Homo sapiens: one gene and its partners. The protein of the gene in region 2 purifies or fractionates together with the protein of the main gene of each other region. This does not show direct contact. Each region holds a gene or a part of one and is shown on either strand. Other genes may lie near its edges.

The links. The genes of interacting proteins can lie anywhere in the genome.
Region 1: the proteins of HOXA4 (region 2) and RABGAP1L purify together in Homo sapiens (affinity purification with mass spectrometry, with the first as the bait; one large-scale study listed by BioGRID). This does not show direct contact.
Region 3: the proteins of HOXA4 (region 2) and ANKRD17 purify together in Homo sapiens (affinity purification with mass spectrometry; one large-scale study listed by BioGRID and IntAct). This does not show direct contact.
Region 4: the proteins of HOXA4 (region 2) and SIRT5 purify together in Homo sapiens (affinity purification with mass spectrometry; one large-scale study listed by BioGRID and IntAct). This does not show direct contact.

The regions. Positions count from the first base shown.
Region 1 is NC_000001.11:174,988,520-174,992,019, reverse strand, and holds part of RABGAP1L (rab GTPase-activating protein 1-like), read right to left. Parts: intron 3,380-3,500; coding exon 3,182-3,379; intron 2,172-3,181; coding exon 2,019-2,171; 3' UTR 1-2,018. UniProt on the Homo sapiens protein: GTP-hydrolysis activating protein (GAP) for small GTPase RAB22A, converting active RAB22A-GTP to the inactive form RAB22A-GDP. Plays a role in endocytosis and intracellular protein transport.
Region 2 is NC_000007.14:27,128,025-27,132,174, forward strand, and holds HOXA4 (homeobox protein Hox-A4), read right to left. Parts: upstream 2,734-4,150; 5' UTR 2,710-2,733; coding exon 2,094-2,709; intron 1,548-2,093; coding exon 1,201-1,547; 3' UTR 501-1,200; downstream 1-500. UniProt on the Homo sapiens protein: Sequence-specific transcription factor which is part of a developmental regulatory system that provides cells with specific positional identities on the anterior-posterior axis.
Region 3 is NC_000004.12:73,073,799-73,077,298, reverse strand, and holds part of ANKRD17 (ankyrin repeat domain-containing protein 17), read left to right. Parts: intron 1-194; coding exon 195-359; intron 360-1,008; coding exon 1,009-1,068; 3' UTR 1,069-3,500.
Region 4 is NC_000006.12:13,598,601-13,602,100, forward strand, and holds part of SIRT5 (NAD-dependent protein deacylase sirtuin-5, mitochondrial), read left to right. Parts: intron 1-429; exon of another isoform or gene 430-431; coding exon 432-555; exon of another isoform or gene 556-1,041; intron 1,042-2,233; coding exon 2,234-2,349; intron 2,350-2,480; coding exon of another isoform or gene 2,481-2,520; exon of another isoform or gene 2,521-3,037; intron 3,038-3,500. UniProt on the Homo sapiens protein: NAD-dependent lysine demalonylase, desuccinylase and deglutarylase that specifically removes malonyl, succinyl and glutaryl groups on target proteins.

The sequences.
Region 1 (3,500 bases), on a different chromosome or scaffold from region 2:
GCATTCTGTGGAATGTACTTATTTTTGTAAATTGAAACAAGCTCTGTACAGAACTATGAAATTCACAACACAAAAGAGCATCTTTAATTTAGCTGGCCATTTGATAAGGCAACTGCACAAGGCTTCTTGGAATCAAAGCGTAAAGTACCAGTAAAGCTAACAGCCTATACTAAATGATTTACAAAAACAAGCGCCAAGATAACATTTTCTAGCTATTACATTTTACAAAAAAAAAAAAAAAAAAATTAGCTTATCTAGACCACCATGTAGAGAATGTTAAAGCCAACACAGACACTTGGAATGCTGGGTTATGTTCCTTTTTGTTAAGAAAATAAATTTTGTAATGAAAGATGTCAGAACAACAATGAAAGATTTATGTAAGAAAAGTATTATCTGATGAGTATAACATAACAATCACATCAGTTTTATGGGCTGTAGAGAATATAAACACAGATAAAGGGGATTTCACTTTTTAGAACATAAAAGATCATTTTAGAGGAAAAGATCCACTGTGAGCAACTTGGTGCATCCTCCTGGGATGTAGATGGCTCTTATTTGATTCTTCTAAGGGTGTGTTACTTTTAATTGCAAAATATGGCACAGATGAGAATCATTCTGGCACTACAGAGTTTAAGATTCTTTGCAAATAATATGTTCAACAATGAGGCCAATGATTAATATCAACAAATGTTATTGTACATATCTAATAGTAGTTTGGTTGGTTTGAAAGGATCAGAGGCCTCCAAAATAGTTTATAAAATAAAAATAGTTTTGCTCTTATCAAATAATTTCCTGCAAGGACTATTTTTATAGGCATGTTAAATATAATTGAAAAAATATTTCCACTAATTTTTAAACAATAGCTTTACCTTTCCATGAGATAAGTATTTCTGTAAAGGTTTTATATTCAATCAAAAATGTTACAAATGCATTTGTATCTCTTTATGGGTACGAAGGACACATTTTCAGGGAACTACAGAAATCAGAAAAAGTTGCCCAGCATTAAACTAAGATGATGTGAGCCTGACCTCTATTTCCCATTTCAATACTATGTCCTTTAACAAAGTTACAGTATTGTTAGTGTTTCCTTAGCAAGTATATATCAACGTTAAATGAAATACTCTGTCCCTGGTTCTATATTCCACTCTATTCAGCACAATGGCTGAACCTGGGGCTTTTTAGGCGTCTCTGGTAAAGGCTCCCTAAGTCTGTAAGGTGCAATATCCACCTTTAACTTTATAATTGCCAGAAGTCACATCTGTGTCCATACTTTGGTGTACTTAGGAACTCACAAGTCCTATGTGGCATTCTTAAAAGGATCTGTTAGAATACCACAGCCCAAATGATCCTGACCTACACTTATTAAAATTTCAGTTCCTTTTACCTAGCGTATAATCTGAACAGCCCGTCTATTCCTGGCACTTCATTTCCAGATGTACCGAACAGAAAATGAAAGTAAACCAATGATCGCTGATTGGTTCTTTCCTTTGGACAGGATTAACACTTCCCTGGGAATCAGGCTCAGGAGGAAACCTGAGAGTGGTCATGCCTGGCCCCACAGTGTGCTTTATCTGAATAAATCCTGAAAACTTAAGATGTTTAGGTTTCAATTTTTTTTTTCCTGTGACAAAGATCTTCTTATCACTTCAACCTTGGAATAACAGATGTCTCCATTTTTATGTAAGATAAAAATAATTATGAATAATTCTAAATAAAAAAGCATTTAGTTCTGAATTACTTATTTCCAACTAAACATCAGGCAAACAAAATAATGTGTAATACTATGATGGATCTGAACATGGCCTTCCAGAAGCTGGAAAATAGGTATTCAACATAGAACAGGTCAGTTTAAATAGCATCCCTTTGAAAAGTGTCATACAAGAAAGAGTGAGAGCTACTGAAAAATTCTGGCTTGTTTTCTGGCCTCCTTGACTTTCCTTCAAAGGGACACCAGGAAGAATCCTCCCAGATTTCCATTGGTTTGAACATTGTGCTCTTGTGCTTGGGTAAGGCTGGAACTATGTGCTCTCCTTGGGTGGCTGGGTGACCGGTGCTGGCTGCAATGGCTGGGTGCCCGTGGCCGTTTTGATAGAGTTCAGGGTTTTGCTAAACCAAGAGTTTTTCGCAGCTTGGATTTCATTCATAAGGGCTCCTCTCTGATGTTCAAGTTCCTAATTAAAGCAAGAAAATCATCTGAGTTAAATAAATGTTTTCTCTTTGCCAATAAATAAATAAAAGTGTGCAGCTTTTTGGAGTCTCAAGGTATGTGCTGCCAATTTTCCTCCCACAAAACCCAGGAGAGATTGAATTGGCTTCTTAGTACAAGGATAAAGTTAAGAGCTAAAAGACTTATCAAAAATCTAGAATCTGTGCTTTCTTTAAACAGTGAAAGAAAAGCTCATTTTATTCTTTTTTTCCCTGCAAGTTAGGTCCAAATTTAGGTTTAGGTTGCAATCCGATATAACAGGTTTAAAAACCACAAATAAATGTAAACATATGGATGAATTTTTACTGATAGTAGAAGCATGAATGAATTCCAGTTCCAAAGAAATAGGCTTTGCCCTAAGAATGTCCAAGGTCAGAGCAGACACATGGTGGAAGCTGGCTGGTGTGGTGGAGGCTGGTGACATGGCAGCCATGGTGCTGGTAGGGATCACTGGGAAAATGAAATGAAGAAGAGTCCATCAGAAGCCAGGACTATTTCTAATTATATTATGCGCCAATATGGAGAAAGATAATGGGGAAAGAGGTTTGACAAAATGAGCTAAAGATAAAAAGAAGCTCTAAAGGAAAGAACGGGTGTCAGCCAATGTGTGACTCTCAGGGTAGACACAGCAGAGGGGGTTTGGTTTTTCATTTTCAGGATCAGCCACTGAAGTGACCACATTCTGTGAGAAAGGATGTAAGCAAAAAATCTCAGGGTAAAAAAAACAAGCATATGCTTAATTAAATTCCCATAAGATATAATTTTAATTATTAAAATTTCATTTAAAATTATATATTTGTTTATATCAGCGTTAAGAATACATGATATAAAATGTGATTATGCAGGACACATTAGCAGACAGAAAATGTATTCATCATACAATTCTGACCTAGATAGGTGTATTCTGAAGTACTAGAGTATCCTGGACCATTAATTGTTTATTCTTTCTTCTTGTTCTTTTATCAAATCACCAACCTGAATTTTACACTTGGCCTCCACCAACTGCAGTTTGGTTTGTGCCAGTTCCAGTTCCATCTCTCTCAGCTGCTTCTTAAGTGAGTCCTTCTCATCATCTGTTTCAATTCCCTGGTCCTCTCTGCCTGTGGCTGCTAGTTTCAAAGCACCCTCCTTGCTGAAAATGTCACTGCAGTGTTTGCATGCCATCATCTTACCCTAAAGTATCCAAAAGAGATAACCAACATCAAACTATTCCATAGGCTAAATCACCTTCTGAAACAATTTATGACTTTTTTAGATGCTGCTTATTGTCATAGATGCAGGCCCATTTCTGAAG
Region 2 (4,150 bases):
TTTGCACAAACTATTTTTTATCTCCTGGGAAACAGGCAGATTAAGTGTGAAGGTGCAACAAATACCAAATACCAAAGAGACCACTTCTTTCCAAGTGTGCTCAGAGTTCAGTGTGTAGAACAGCTGCAGAAACTCCTGGGCCCACAGCACTGCATGGTTTCAACTTTCATTGCAGGGAAGGACACGTTTCTATGCCTTACAGAGACTTGAAGCCTGAAAGCCTGGCCAAGTTTGGGAAGAAGAGGAGCCCTCTCAGAGCTCAAGAGCCTTCCTACTCTTTGGAACTTTTCCACAGTAGGCCAAGCTTGACAAGAGTTCAGCTCAAGTTGAACATACATACACACACTCTCACACACAAATTATGTGAGCCGTCAGAATCCAAGTGAATCCAGCTCAAGCTATCTACAAGGTTTTTACATGCAAGGTCAAGTATCTCAATCCAGAGGACTTTTGTTTTCTTAATGAAAAGCTTAGAAAACACATGAATCTTAGATTTTTAATGTTTTTTAAATGGAGTTTATTCTTAGCACATGGCTTTCTATGTAGCCACATCACAATTTGTACAGTTCCACATAAGTCTAAATGCACTCCCCTCTCCCCAAAGACCGTGCCCCAGAAGGGGACAACAGTATCTCTGTAACAGTGTCTTAAATAAATGCAAGTAAGAAAAACTAACATGTCACACCTACCATCAAGGTCTACACATCTTAAGAATTAAATAATCTTGTGAGGTCCACAATGTCTACTCATTTATTCAGTTAAATACAAGCTTGGATGAGCTGCCTTAATGGGGGAAGAGGAGGTAAGGAAGGTGGGGAAAGGGTCTGTCTTCTTCTGCTTTCAACAAAGATGCAAGTGTATGTCCCCACTCAGCATGGGCTGTCCAGCTAGCTGACTGTAGCCATCTCAAAAGTATTTGATACCAAGTAGTCCTTCTCAGGTATCCACACCTGGCAGCCTTGTTTCGGGCCAGCAGGTTGTTCCACCAGCCAGCATCCTGGACAACTGTTCTCTCTTGGGTGGCAACCAGCACAGACTCTTAACCGGATAATGTCTTCTTTTTGATTATTCTTTTCACCAATTTGGGTTTGTTTTGGTGTCTATTATGGTCCAGATGGGGAGGGGTGGATGAGGAACGGAGCAGGAGAAGAGAAGAGAAAAGCAGGTAAGGGATAGAAACTGGTTAAGATCTCTAGAAGATTATATGGAGGAGGGAACGGGTGTGGAGGTGCTCGGGTGGGGGTGGGGATGGAGGTGTGGGCTCTGAGTTTGTGCTTTCCCTGGTGGGCCGGCAGAGGCCGAGGCCGAATTGGAGGATCGCATCTTGGTGTTGGGCAGTTTGTGGTCTTTCTTCCACTTCATCCTCCGGTTCTGAAACCAGATCTTGACCTGGCGCTCAGACAAACAGAGCGTGTGGGCGATCTCGATGCGGCGCCGCCGGGTCAGGTATCGATTGAAGTGGAACTCCTTCTCCAGCTCCAAGACCTGCTGCCGGGTGTAGGCGGTTCGAGAGCGCTTAGGCTCCCCTCCGTTATAACTGGGGTTAACTGAAAACCCAGAACCCCGAAATAGAAGGCCAAGGAGGAGGGAGCGGAAGAGAGGGAAAGGAGGAGGAGAGAGAAGGTGGGGTGGGGAAGAGCAATTGGACATCATCATTATATAATAACCTGACACCAAGTTCACGCAAGATACATAAAACGGCAAAGAAAATGTTTCACAGGCTATTGACAACGGGAAACACCCGAGAGCCATAAAGAATGGTGCTGGGCATTGGGGCTGAAGAAAAGCTTCAAAGACACATGGCCTGAAGCCTCTGCCAGGGCAATTAAATTTATGGGGGCTATAATTACTGCCCTAACAGTTTGGCGTCTCGTAAATCTCCTGATAAAGGGACCCTGGGTACAAAAGGGTTCTCATGTTGGGATCAGGCGGCTGGCTGGCGCGCACATACCCACATCTCACCGCAGCCCGGGTCAGATGGGGGCTCCCCTCCCGAGGCCCCCTTCCCCTGAGCCTCTCCCTCCTGACCCCGACCCTCGAACCCAGGCCCAGCCCCGGCCCACCTCCCGCGCCTCCCAAGCGGCGCCACGTACCGGCGCTGACATGGATCTTCTTCATCCAGGGGTACACCACGGGCTCCTTGCCCTTCAGGCCCAGCGGGCTCTTGTCGGCCAAGAGCAGCGGGCACGCGGGGGCGCTGCCCCCTGCCGGGACGCCTGGGGTGGCGGGGGCCGCCTCGCAGCGCCGCGGGGCCGCTGGGGGCACGGCGCGAGGCTGCAGGGGCGGCGGCAGCTGGGGCTGCAGGACGTGGCTCGCATGCAGGCCGTGCGCTGGGCCCTTGGCTTGCGCCGGGGGCTGCTCGGGCTGGGGCGGCCGCCCGGGGCTGGCGCCGCCGCGGTAGCCATAGGGGTAGGCGGTGTCCGCGGCCCCATGCGCGGGGTACAGCGCGGCAGCAGGGTAGGCGGGCTCGCGGGCGGTCCGCGGCGCGTAGTAGGAGGCAGTGGGCTCTCGGCCGCCGCCCGCGTGAGGGAGCTGGGGCTGCTGCAGCGGCAGGTGCTGGGTCGGGGGCGCTGGGGGCTGCTGGTAGCCGGGGCCCCCGCCCGGGCCGCCGTCTGCGCCGCCCGAGCCGCTGTGCTGCGCGTACTCCTCGAAGGGAGGGAACTTGGGCTCGATGTAGTTGGAGTTTATCAAAAACGAGCTCATGGTCATTAATTTGTGAAGTGCAAAAATACTAATTTTTCTCGCGTTGTCGTTTTTTCTGGGCTTGCCGAGGCCCCTCCCCCTCCTGCCTCGCTTCCCATCCCCCTTTCCTCTGCGCCCTTCCCCTCCCCCCGCTGTCAAGTGCCCACTCCTCCCCCTCCCGCAGACGCCGCCACCAAAGTTCGAGCCGCTCCTCCCCAGCCCAGCGCGCGCCCCGCCCCGTGCCCCACGTGCAGCGCCCCCACCAATGGGCGCACCGCGCGCGCGGACCCGGATCAGGAAACGCGCGGGTGCGTGATGGATGCTGCTGTCCGGCCCCTGGGCTGGGGGAGGGAGCAGGAGCTTTGGACCCCAGCCCCCCAGCTTTGGTTCCCGCTGGGAATTCAGGCCCTGTCAGGCTGTAGGTCCTCTCGGGAGCCCTCTGCCTGCCCTACTGCTGGCCTAGGCCTCGGGCTGTCTGGCGGCCGCGACTCAGCGCTGACCTCGGGCGCAACCCAGTCAGGCTTCGTGTCCTTCAGGGGTTCTAGGCTAACAGGCGAAAGGAAGGGCGTTGGGACCGAGGGGCATCCTGGTTTTTATGTACGCCACTGAGAGGCCACCAGACACATTTTCTCAACCGCAGATCCCCCTTCCCCACACCCTGCTCCTTGCGTGTCAGCCTGAGAGCCCTTGCTTTGAGAAGCTTGGCAGAAGCTGCAAAGGGTGGGCGGGCAGCTAAGAGAAATCGACCCAAGGATGTAAATCGAGGCCATTCCATTATAACTGGATGGACACTTTTCATTTTTTCCTTCTTTCAGAGACAATCTGTTTCGTGTTTTCCTAAGAAAAATTGGAACCTTCGTAATAGCATCTAATTTGACGGGGGTTGTCGATGTGAGAGCTAAATATGCCCGCATTTACTAGGTGCGATTGTGAGAGAGAAGGTGGCCCAAGGATGGGAATGGATAGAAGCAACACCTCCACAGAACCGAGCTTTGAAAACAATAACTTCCTATTTCAGAACTATCCCCAAACAAAAACAAGCTAAGGGTAGAATAAACACCTTGCCGGGTCTGATCGCTGATGGGTCTTTTCCAGCTAAGAATTTCATGTTTTCTCTTTTAGATCCTGCTTTCTCAGGCAGTATCTGAGGCTAGAGTTATATTTGCAGGACAGTCTATAATTTCTGAATTGCTGAAAATTAGCGTATTAACGATATCAGAAGCTCCGGAAAGGAGGGAGAGGAGACTGTTGCCTGCTATTTGGTAATTGAAATTTGATGGGTACACTAATTACGCCATTATTAACAAATAAATTACTTATTAATTCCACCTAATGTTGATCTTTGAAGTAAATACTGATGCCTTATTTGTGCTGTGTGCTTTCTCCCTTTCTTTTCTGAGTAGTAGACATATCTAGATCCTCTACTTTTCAGCCTAAATTAAAGCAGTGTAAACTAGCATAGTCACCA
Region 3 (3,500 bases), on a different chromosome or scaffold from region 2:
TGAATATAGTAGGCATATGTATAATCTAATGTTAAAATAAGTTATATAATGGGTAATAATTTTTAGATTTCTTAGATAAGTTACACATTCCCAGGATGAGGTGAACTTTCAAATATCAATTTTAAGGCTATTGATTATATTGGGAAAAATGAACAATGACTTGGATGTTAATGTGTGTGTTTTCCTTTTTTAAGGGTATGCCTTTTTCTGTGTATGGGAATGCAATGATTCCTCCAGTAGCACCTATCCCTGATGGTGCTGGAGGACCCATATTTAATGGCCCTCATGCTGCAGACCCTTCTTGGAACTCACTGATAAAGATGGTTTCCAGCTCCACGGAAAATAATGGCCCTCAAACGGTGAGGCTGATCATTCAGTGAATAAACAGTTGTTTTGTGTTTAAGAAATGCAAAGACAAATAGGATTCAGGTAACTCATGATAGCAAGAGAGTTTGGTGAATATGGGCAGTTGAGGAAATCTAATATAGCTGCAATATAGCAGAGGGCTGTGGGCAGTGGTACCAAAGGCAGGTTTGGGGCTAAAATTATGAAAGGTATTGTATATTCTACTGGGTAGCAGATAATAAATGAAAGATTTTAAGTTGCAAAGTGACTGTCATATGATTTTATACATTAAAGTTTACTAGTGGTGTGAAAAGACCATCTAAAGGTTATTTATTAAAGGTACTATAAATAACTCTGAGAATTCACATAAATGGTTGTATATTTTAGTTTAGTGTATGTTTAATATCTTTGATTTATTTTTCTTCCACAACCGTGAATCTATAAATGCTCAGGTAATGATTTTTTTTTTAAAGGTTGTAAATCAGATTCTGTTTGAGGGATAAGAGGTAGGAAAATAATAGAAAAAAGGTTTTTATCATTTTTTTCCATTAGTTCCTAGTATATTGCAAATTGAAGAGTACCTCCTTAGTTTTTTAAAAGTTTTATTTTAATAAAATATATGCTAGATATATATTTTGTAAAATGCATGCTCTATATTCATAGGTGTGGACTGGACCCTGGGCACCTCACATGAACAGTGTGCATATGAACCAGCTTGGCTGATGAGGATCAGCTTGTTAGCCTGCAGATTCCTTTTCATTTGGAGGAAATCACAAGTGGCCGAAAAAAAAAATTATGCTCCCAAATCATTCTACTGATGTGCTTGACTGAAGTGTGTAGGCTTTTTGCAGAAGATCTTACTAACTGACCTATTTTCTGTGAACATTTGTGACTGCCCATTCCCCATCATCATCCGTTTTACCTTAGTTAGCATTTTTCTTATCATTTTTCTTTTTTTCTTTCCCTCTTCCCCTTTGGACATAACTTTCTGTTGAAGCTGTTCTTTGGCTGGTTGGTTTTAGTACTGTAAACTGCTTCTGAGCAAACACGGAAATTTAGCAAAATTATGTAAACTTGATCCTGAAGTTTTAGAATGGCAAATAAATGTACAATTGTTTACATAACAGAAAAGGCTAAGCAGAAAGTAAATTTCAATATGTCAGTATAGAGGCTCTACTTTATGTAGACTTAAATTAATGTGAGATATGTACCTTCATATTCAGAAATCTGGATGTTTCCTTCATACATTAAACTATTAATAAGCATAACTTTTCTACTGGTGTAATTTAAGTATAAAGTAAAATAATGGGCATTATCATTGGATGTTTCCCCACATTGGCTTTTAAAATACCCATCTTGCTTTCTTTTTGGTTTATTTGTAGCAAGGCACATATAGAAGAAGAAATTTCTGGCTTTTCCATGTTGTTTTATTACCTTTTCTCACTTTTAAAACTAATACAGACTTATCTCCTCACTCCTTTTTCTCTCCTTACCTTTACCACTAATACCAGTAAAATTATCTTTCTGATAGTGAAAAGGTTCTGTCAAGATTTTCACTGTAATGGCTGCTACAGAGATGGACCATCTTCATCATCACCAGTGGTTTCTTCTAATTATAAAATGTTTAAACTTTCTGAGAATTTAAAAAGCCACCACTGTTCCCAGTCAGCATATACAAGCTCTTAATATTCTGTTTATTAAATAATTCAATGTACTATTTTATATTGGATGATATTGATTCTTAACATTGGCTTTTCAGTCATCAACAGTCAACATAAAAATTTCAATTTTCAGTAATTTAGTGGAAAATATCTTATTTCTTTTTTCAATTTTAAAGGCTTCCTGCTTTTTTACCCTTGTATATTATCAGTGAAAAGGATCAACAGTTAATTTGAGCCAAGTAATAAAAGAAATTCTGCATTTGTCACGAAGACAATTTATGGTAGACAGATAAATACACAGATTACAGTGTAAAGTCTCCATTTAACCTGTTTATAAAAGATACAAGGCCACACTAAACTACTCAGTGGGATTTATATATTCCATCCACTTGAAACAATAAACAGTAATGTATCCAAGAAGATTATGTGTCCTACCCTGTCTCATGGAAAAATTAATTATATGGTTGAAATGTAAAAGAAAGTAAGCATAAAAATCGAGTAATGTATATATCAATTTGTCTTCTTTTTTTTTAATTAGACATAAAATTTCACACTGGTAAAACATAAAAACTAACTAAAATTCATATAAATCACCTAGAGTTGATGATATTAACATGGTTCCTTGGTTGTCAAGTAAATCAAATGATTTCTTCCATCTGAGTAAAGAGTAAAGCCTGAGTAAAGAGTAAAAAGATGACTTCTCAAACATATCCAGAAATTTGTAAACAGTACACTCATATCTTTTAGTTTAAGAAGTGGTCTTAAAATATATAAATTTGTTTTTCCACCTATGTTTAATATGCCCAAATTTAAAGGGAGAGCTAAAAGACAGCCTACAAATAAATATAGCTATGAAATAAAATTATAGCACTTTACTAAAAAAGGGATGTAATAATGTTATTTAACGAAGTATTTTATATATGACTTGCCACTATTCTATACATAAAATTTTTTTTCTTAATTCTTTCCTGTGTTAACTAGGGTTATTTTCTATTTAAGGTAATCCTGCTGGAGAACAGATGCTATCCAATATTTATTACAACACATGAGTTGTGTTGTTTCACAATACTGAATTTCTTAGGTGAGGTATTTTATTTAAAAAGGAGGGGGAAAACTCCTATATTTTCTTGACTTCAAACCTGTGGGGCCAGGGGATATAGATTGAAATGCTCCGTATTTAGTCTTGGGGATCAGGCTTGTTTAGTACAATACCATGGTTTTAGAAGTCTGTACTAGGAACATTTTTAAAATACATTTTTTATATTTCAGATGTAATGCAGTGCACTTTTATTTGAACAATAAAAAAACCCATAACTTTTTGAGACCATGAAGGTCTTTTATTTTTTAATTTTGAAAATATGTGGTATGTGTATATGCAGACTACATCATTGTTTTAAGAAATGATTTAACTCTTGGACATTACACTTGGGTTAGTTCACACCTTAAATCCCCAAGTAGTTAATATCTCAATTATTGTATAATCAGTTTATACCA
Region 4 (3,500 bases), on a different chromosome or scaffold from region 2:
GGGCAGATCACCTGAGGTCAGCAGTTTGAGACCAGCCCGGCGAATGTGGTGAAACATGTCTCTACTAAGAATACGAAAATTAGCTGGGTGTGGTCACACATGACTGTAGTCCCAGCTGCTCGGGAGGCTGAGGCAGAATTGCTTGAACCTGGGAGGCAGAGGTTGCAGTGAGCGGAGACCATGGCATTGCACTTCCGCCTGGGCAGCAGAGTGAGACTCCGTCTCAAAAAAAAAAAAAAAAAAAAAGACCATTAAACCTGATGCTTCATAAGCAAGGCAAGTTTATATAGGCTGGGAGGGAGGGTGTAGGGAATAAGAGGCATCAGAGGTGACCCATCTGGATGTACTAGGTTTGGGGCAGCCCCTGGCCTCCCTCCGATCCAGCTGGGCAGACTTGGCTCGGGGTTGGCTTAAGGATCCCATTCTTCCAGGTGTGAAGAGGCAGGCTGCGGGGGCTTGCTGCGACCTCACGTCGTGTGGTTTGGAGAAAACCTGGATCCTGCCATTCTGGAGGAGGTTGACAGAGAGCTCGCCCACTGTGATTTATGTCTAGTGGTGGGTCATGCCCTTCCCTAACCCCAGGACAGGACTGGAGTTTGTTATTTTTTCCTTCCCCCTCTCCTCTTTTCCTTCCTCCCTCCCTTGCTTCTTTCCTTCCCGCCTTCTCTCCTCCCTCCATTTCTTCCTTTCCTTCAAATGTATGTTGAGAGGTCTTTGTGGTATCCTATAGAAAAACTGAGAAACAATGAATAAGAATTTGTATTAAAATAGGAAACCATGCATGTCTTGGGCATCTCAAAGCCTCCTCCCCCAGCCCCACCAAAAACAAAGAAAAGAACATGCTATTGGTTTTTTAAATAATACATGCTTATGATTAAATTTAATTGAGAACATGCAAAAATTATCACATTATAAAGAGGAAATTAGAAATCGCCCATAGTTCTGCTATCCAGAAATAGTTACCGTTAGCAGTTTAGTATGTTTTCTTCTAGACCCAGGAGTGAGCAAACAGCAGCCTTTGGGCCACATTGGGCCTGCTACCTGTTTTTGGAAATAAAGTTTTATTGGAACTCAGCCACACTCATTCTTCCACACACTGTCTATGACTACTTTCAAACTACAAGTGGCAGAGTTGAGTACTTGTGACAGAGATTGAATGGCCTGCAAAGCCTGAAAAATTTACTGTATGGTCATTTTCAGAATAAGTTTGCCCACCTCTGGTCTAAACCTTTTCTTATGCAGATGTACACGTATTAATTAAAATTCAAAACTGAGTTCATGACATATGTTCTGTTTTGAAACTACTTTGTTCACGCAGCAGTTCACTTAGCATGTTCCATATCAATATGTCTAAATCAATATCATCTTTCAATTGACTGTATGGTGTTATATATGGATAAGGAATGATATATTTAGCTAATTCTCTACTGTAAGACATTTGGGCTATTTCAAATTTTGATAGTTTAATCAATGATATCGTGAATATCCTTAGATAGAAATCTTAGCATGCTCTTCAAATGATTTCCTTAGGACACATTTCCTAAAAGTGGGATTCATTGGACAGATTGTATGCGTATTTCAAATTTTTCTTGACACGTCTTTAAAAGCAGAGGCACTTTCTTGTGGTGCGTATTCATTCAGCCAGTATTTAAAGAATGCTTCCCAGTGTTGAGTATAGTGCCACTGTTGATGATGGATTGTTAAATGAGAAAAGCCGGTTTACAAAACAGGTCATGCTCTTCCCATCCCTGTAAAGAATGTTTATAAGCAAATATTTATAAGAGAAAACCTAAGAGGACATACATGAAAATGTTAACAGTGGTTATCTTGCGGTAAGATTATGGATGATATGTATGTTTTTTTCTTCGTATTTTCTACCTTAAACAAAAAGATAGAAAATATGTTTTAAAAAGTTATGGATCATTTGTTTAACTTTAAAAAGCAGAAACAAAACCAGAATTAACCCCAAAACATGTTGATTGAGTCACTTCTATGTCACTCTTTGCATAACTCTCCTTTTCATGTCACATATTCTTCTCGATTCTAGTGATTGATCAAAGGACACCTCTTCACTTTCCCTTGTCCCTTGGACACCCTGTTTTATCCCATCCTGTTTGGCTTTTCTCACACCTGCAACCACAGACCTGCCTGAGTTTGTGTAAGGTTTTCTGAAATAATGTTCCTTCTCCTTGTCGTCTGGCTGTTTGTTCATCTCCGTGTACTTGCCTTGTAGGTGGGCACTTCCTCTGTGGTGTACCCAGCAGCCATGTTTGCCCCCCAGGTGGCTGCCAGGGGCGTGCCAGTGGCTGAATTTAACACGGAGACCACCCCAGCTACGAACAGATTCAGGTACTGGGATACCCTGATGGGAGAGGGAGATGTGGGAGGCAGGTACAGACATGGTCATCTAAACATAGTTGACCTACTCCTCTAATTTTTAAAAAAGACATAGGGTTTGTGTTTTTTTGTTTGATCTGCAGTTGCTTTTATGGAAGAACAAAATCATTCACTGTAGACTAAGGTAGGGTAGCTCTGTCATTGTATGCGAAATTTGCCGTGGGACTTTTGTTTGTTCACATTTTGAACGCTCTTCTTGGATTCCTTAGGCTTTGCTTTCCCTTACATTTTTAAGCTAGACTTAGTGATGACCTGTAGTTGTAGGTTACCCAAATGCTCCGCAAGTAAGCCTGGGAGATGCCCTTGCAGAACCTCATCACCTGCCGTTCTTACTGGGAGGCCACCTGGCAGATACCCCTTTGGTCTAATCGCCAAGGTTATTTGTATCTGTGGCCATATTATGACACTGATCCTGCTTCCCAAGTTTGGGTGGGAAGTGTAGATTGTCATAGTATGCATTTTTAGTCTTATTCCTGGGTCTGTTTTATTTCTTCATCCATGTTCTGTCTTTTTTCTCACCCCAACTTTTTTTTGCTTTTACCTCTAATTCTTGTCCATCTAGTTAATTCCTTTTGAATAAGTTAGAATATAAATAAGTAGTAAATTAATATAAATGAATAAAATAGAAAACTTCATTGAACCATCTTGTCATTACTTTAATCAACAGTTTCCAACCTTGGCTGCATATTTTAAAAATACTGATGCCTGGGTGCCACCTCATGAAATTTCGATGTCATTGCTCTGAGTTGCAGCCCAGACATCATCATTTTGATAAGCTTCCTAGGTGATTCCTGTGTGCAGCCAGGATAGGAACCACTCTTCTAAGTCTTTGCTGGGATTTAAAAAAAAAAAAGAAAAAAGAAAGAAAAGGGGCCACAGACACTTCAGTAGGCCCCTCCTCAAGTGAGTGAACTGGCTCTGAGCCTCTTCTTTTCCATGTGTCTTTTTGATCAGCTACAGCCTGTGTTCTTGATCCATAGTTCTTCATCTGTGTGTGAGTAGTAGGAACTAAGAAGATAGCCTTAAAAAAAAATTGCCTCCTATGCAAAACTTATACTCTGAAAACTACAGAACATTATTGAAAGAAATAAGGAAGGCCTAAA